2 separate regions of the Homo sapiens genome follow, and region 1 is linked to region 2. Evidence: fine-mapped expression QTL. A gene starts in region 2. The other region holds a variant in brackets. All regions are shown on one strand. Distances are between the middles of the regions. Region 1 overlaps KIAA1671. Region 2 holds the start of CRYBB2 (crystallin beta B2).

Region 1 (2,908 bases), 170 kb before region 2:
AGCAATAACAAAGCCTAACACTTACTATCGTTACATGTCATGTAGATACTGCTATTATTTCCACTTCACAGATGGGCAAACTGAGGCTCAGAGCCATTAAGTGTCTCTTCCAAGTTCTGGGTCTGCAGTCCATGCTCTTAAGTGTCTGCTGAACTTTCCACTCGTCTTACGTGGTAGCCCGGTGGGAGGACAGAGCCCAAATGAGATGATGCTTACAAAGCTCTTAGCACAGTGCCTGACACCGAGAAATGGCTTCACAAATCATAGCAGCTATTATTATTATTATTATTTGAGATGGAGTCTCACTCTGCCGCCCAGGCTGGAGTGCAGTGGCATAATCTCGATTCACTGCAGCCTCTGCCTCCCGGGTTCAAGTGATTCTCGTGCCTCAGCCTGCTGAGTAGCTGGGACTACAGGCGTGCACCACCACACCAGGCTGATTTTTGTATTTTCAGTAGAGATAGGTTTTGCCATGTTGGCCAGGCTGGTCTCAAACACCTGACCTCAAGTTTTCCGCCAGCCTTGGTTTCCCAAAGTGCTGAGATGACAGGTGTGAGCCACTGCACCCGGCTTATTATTATTTTATTATTATTTGCGGCCAGGTTTTTTTTCTATGCTCTCCCAAAGAGCTGATGGGAAAGACAAACATCCATAGCCTTAGAAGTTTTTCTGCAGTTGAGGAGACAGGCCCAGTGTAGGGAAGTGTCTTGTGTATGGTCCTGTGGCCTCTAGAGGCAGAGCTGGGGCTGGAGTTCTTCTTTGTGACTCCTTGGCCAGTGCTCTCTGTTTCTCCCCATCTCCCTTGTTACTTTCAGGGTTCCCCTCAGGACCTCGAGTCCACATGGCGAATCCAAGTCCTGTATCAGGCTTCCTCCCTCTCCTCTTTTCCCCAGGAAGTGAGCTTTGGTCTGCATTTTCACAGGGACCATAAAACACAGTGACTCAGTTGTGGACTGTGACCTCGAGTCACAGTTTACCCTGGAGGCCCATCTTGTGACGATGAAGTCAGAGATTCATCAGCTGGGAGGCTTCCTTGCAATGGGCCAGCGGGAGGGCCTCTGGTAGTCTCTAGAATTTTCTCCCAATCCCTGAAACCTATTGGTTAGCATATGCTGGCTCATTTGGTTCTTGAGTTTATTTCTTTTTGGGCCTACTATGCGCCAGGCCCTGCATGATGGGGCCTGGAGATTTTCTCCGTCAGCCTCCTGGAGTTCACAGCCCAGGGGTCTGAAAATGACCTGGGAGGGTCCAGTTAGGTGCAGGAAGTAGGAGGGGAGACATTTGGGACTGAGAACTCACACAGACAAAGGGGGGTGCTTGGAGGACCAGTTGGGCTGAGGTAGAGTGTTTAGG[G/A]ATTTTGCTCCTTTTTTTGACAAATATTTATCTGCATGTGGTAAGTGCTATGCTGGGCAGTGGGCTACAGTTATGACTAAGGCATAGACAATTAAGAAGGTAGGTAAATAGGCCAGGCACAGTGGCTCACGCCTATAATTCCAGCAGTTGGGGAGGCCTAGGCAGGCGATTCGCCTGAGCTCAGGAGTTCGAGACCAGCCTGGGCAACATGGTGAAACCCTGTTTCTACTAAAATACAAAAAAAAAAAAAAAAAAAAGAAGAATTAGACTGGCGTGGTGTTGCGTGCCTGTAATCTCAGCTACTCAGGAAGCTGAGGGGCAGGAGAATCACTTGATCCCAGCTACTCAGGAGGCTGAGGCAGGAAAATCGCTTGAACTCGGGAGGCGGAGGTTTTAGTGAGCTGAGTTTTCGCCACTGCACTCCAGCGTGGGTAACAGAGTGAGACTCCATCTCAAAAAAAAAGAAGGTAGGTAAATAATTGCAGTGGGTTCTAATAGCTAATTTTCTTTTTTTTTCTTAAACAACAGAAATTTGCTTTCTCACAGATACACAGGCTAGAAGTCCAAGATGAAGGAGCTAGCAAGGCTGGCTTCTAATGAGGCTCCTCTCCGTGGCTGACAGCTGTGTCCTTCATTTGTCTTTGCGTAGCCTCTTCTGTGTATGCAGGGTGGGAGGTGGGTGATAGGTAGATGTCTCTGGTCTCTCTTCCTCTTCGTTTGCCAGTTTATTACAAAAGATAAGCTGTAGAAGCAGAGATGCGTAGGGTGAGGTATGGGGGAGGGAGTGCAGAGCTTCCATGCCCTCCCTGGGCACGCCACCCTCCAGGAACCTCCCTGTGTTCAGGTATCCGGAAGCTCCCTAATAGCTACTGTTTATTGAACATTTACTATATGCCAGGCATCATGTCATGTGCTTTAATTTAATTTGAATTTGTGTAAAGTCTCCCTGGAGGAGGGAGGGGGTGTCTCCACTTGGGGAGGGCTAGCTGAGAAGCAGGAGTTCGAGACCAAAGAGTCTGAGTTCTAAGTCTTGAAGGCTGAGCAGGTGTTTGCCAGGTAACTATGGTCTGGGGAACAGTGGTTTGCCCCTGATCGAGGGAACAGCATGGGCAGAGGTTTAGAGGCGTGAAATTGTGCTCTATACAACGGATGTCATCTGGGGTCCTTTAAACTTGACTTCCACGTGACCCTCCTGGACACCCGCAGTGTTTGGTTTTACACTGAGCTCAGACTTTCCCACATCTCTAACTGGTGAAACTGTGGCCCTTTGCTTCTGAGGCTGGTGCTGTGTCATCGTCATGCCAGCATCTTTGTACGCAGGATCTGCCAGGGCAAAGGTTGAGAGGTTTGAGAGCATTTGGACCTGATGACTTTGTTATTAAGACTGGAAAAAGGAGGGGAGGAACATTTGGATTCTGCTGACAGCAGTGGTAGTCCTTGTGAGTGTAATCAACTTGAAATAAGTGGGAACTTGTGAGGTGGCCCCCGCCCAAGAACATATCCTGGCTGCTAGTTAGAGATTCCCTCTAGATTTCAGTTGGTTGACAGCGAGTCC
Region 2 (2,908 bases):
CCTGGGCGACAGAGCGAGACTCCATCTCAAAAAAAAAAAAAATAGAAAAGAAATGTGAGTAAAGGCTGGGCACCCATGTGGCAGCGATGGGGCCAGTGGTAGGGATCTAAGAGCAACTCACTCTAGGACAGTGGTTAAGAAACAGGCCGGGTGCAGTGGCTCATGCCTGGAATCCCAGCACTTTAGGAGGCCAAGGTGGATGGATTGCCTGAGCTCAGGAGTTTGAGACCACCCTGGGCAACATGTCAAAACCCTGTCTCTAACAAGATACAGCAAAAAAAAGAATTTAGCTGGACCTGGTGGCGCACACCTGTAGTCCCAGCTACTGGTGAGGCTGAGGCAGGAGAATCGCTTGAACCTGGGAGGCAGAGGTTGCAGTGAGCCGAGATCACACCACTGCACTCCAGCCTGGGTGACAGAGTGAGATTCCATCTCAAAAGAAAGAAAGAGAAAGAAAGAAAGAGAGAGAGAGAGGGGGAGAGAGAGAGAGAGAGAGAGAGAGAGGGGAGAGAGAGAGAGAGAGAGAGAGAGAGAGAGAGAGAGAGAGAGAAGAAAGAAAGAAAGAAAGAAAGAAAGAAAGAAAGAAAGAAAGAAAGAAAGAAAGAAAGAGAAAGAAAGAAAGAAAGAAAAGAAAGAGAAACAGCCAGGGGCCTTGAGAATAAAATGCACTCTCCATAATTGGCCTCCCTGGCCCTGCAACATCAGGCCCTGCCCACCTTGGCCACCTGGCACAGGCCCTATTTGTCACATGTCATGCTTTAGCTTTGTTAACCTGTTTTCAGGTCTTCTTGAAATACACCATGCTGGTTCCTTGTATATGGACCCTTTCTGCTTGGAACTGTCCCCCCACCCTGTTCCCAGGCTTCCTCTTCTCCATCCCTGAGGGATGCGCTACCTCCCAGGAGCTTTTCTGAATGGCCTGGGCTGGCGTAGGTCCTCTTCCTGACACTCCCCTGGAACAGAGATTGTCACCAAGTGGATGCCCAACAAATATTTGTTGAATGAATAAATGGGTAGATGAATGAAGCCCAGACTCTGCCAAACCACCCTTCTTTACTTGTTCTTCCCCAGGCCCACTGAGATGTTCCTCTGTCTGCCATGCCTCACGGCCTGACTGACCGTACCAGTGAACCCAGCGTACCCCTGGCCCTGGCAGCCGGACGGCTGATGCATGCAAAGCGGGCATCTCCTTGCCCAGCCGCCTGACCGCCCTGGCGCGGCCGAATCTGAAAGCTAATGACATTATTGTGCAGAGACACAATGTCTGTGGGCATTTGCTGACCCGAGCTTTGGTGAGAGCTTAATCCAGCATTCTCACCCTGCTTTTCGCAGGAGCACAGCGGTCACTCATCTTGGCACCGGCACTTCTGGGGAAGGTATAAATGCCACCTCCCGCTGGCCGAGCTTCACGGCACTCGCAGGGGCTGGTGTCACTGGTAAGATTGCCTCTCTTGCTTGTCTTCCCTTCTTTCTCTCATCCTCACCCCTGTCCGCAAGCATGGGAGCACCCAGATTCTGACAAGTGACTTTGGGCAGAGACTTCAATGCTGTTAGCCTCAGTTTTCTTTTCTGGTAACTGGGAAGGGGGTTAAAAAGCCTTCTTTATTGTAAGGATTCAAGAGAAGTTAGGGGATCATCCAGCACAGTGCCTGGCACACAGTGGGCATTGGGGCAATGTTCTTTATTATTAATATTAAACAGACTATCAGCATCCTTGTTTCGCCAGTCGCTGAGGAGGAGAATGTAACTGAGGGTTTTGCAAGAATCAAACCAGTGACAGTTCAGCATTGTTTCTAGGTGGGTGAGTCAGTTTTCCTCCACATCTGCAATTAGGGGGCACCCACTCTGTGCCTAGCCTCTGGGAGTGCTAGGGGATAGGATGCAGCCACAGGTATGTGACAGGTCCCAGCAACAGGTGATTTCAATGCCACTAAAGCATGGTAGAAATGACTCTAATAATGCCACAATTGCTGCCATTTGCTGCATGCTGAGTGTGTTCTGGGACCACGGCCAAGTGCTTCCGGTTTTATACATTACATAATTGAATCCTCACAACCTGTTCACAGGTATTATTAGACATCATTACTGTCCCCATTTTATAGAACAGGAAGTTGAGGCATAGGGAGAGGATGAGACCTGCCCAGAGTCTCAATTCTGGCAGGCAGCAGAGACTGCTCCTGAACTGGACCAACTGAGCTTCTTCAGTCTGTGAACACTCAGGACTGGGAAGTGATATGGCAGGACCTCAGGCACTCTGACAAGCCCAGAGGGCTGGTTTCTTGCGGGAGAGCAGTAGATTTGGCTGCCAAGGTGCTTAACTGCATTTCTTCCTCCTGGGAAACATCCAGTATTGGCCTTTCATGTGGAAGGGGCTTCTGGAAGCTGGCGTTATCTCTGAAGAGGGAGGCCAGGCTTCCTCTCTTACCCCTGGGGAAACACAGCCTGGTTTGACCACCCCTTCTGCAGGAAGGGGGAAGAGGCTGACAATTTTCCAGGCTTTTCTGATGTTCTCACTAGCTAAGGCAGGTCTACCCTGCTGCCTGCCACAGTGCCTGGATTTCTACCGTCGCACCCATTTCTTCTCTTTCTTGTAATGTGGGTTCTGTATCAGATGATTTCACTAATGGGGGAGTAAAACCAGTGGCAGAGAAGAGAAATCTAGGTACCAGGATGGGGAGAGGAGTCCCAGGGAGAGGGTGGGAGAAGGAGCAGGGGAACAGGGAACTTTGTGAGTTCCTAAACTGGGCACCACCACACCACCAAATACAGCCAATGCATAGGTTTTGTTTGTTCCACACAATTTTATTTAAGAAATTACTGCATAAAGGCAGAAGTTCTGGGATTGACCATTCTATATTCTGTGTGGTATCCATTGTCTGGGGTTGAGTGTTGGGAACCCACTTTGGAC

The links. PIP is the estimated chance that this variant, and not a neighbour inherited with it, causes the effect.
Region 1: its variant is fine-mapped to the expression of CRYBB2 in thyroid (GTEx, PIP above 0.99).

The regions. Positions count from the first base shown.
Region 1 is chr22:25,052,444-25,055,351 of GRCh38, forward strand. The region is part of intron 6 of KIAA1671; the gene reads left to right. Among named protein-coding and RNA genes, the nearest start is that of KIAA1671-AS1, 59 kb to the right of the region's middle. The variant G/A (reference allele first, on the strand shown) is at 1,354.
Region 2 is chr22:25,218,231-25,221,138 of GRCh38, forward strand. CRYBB2 (crystallin beta B2) reads left to right here and starts at 1,409. Exons shown (of 6, transcript NM_000496.3): 1 at 1,409-1,436.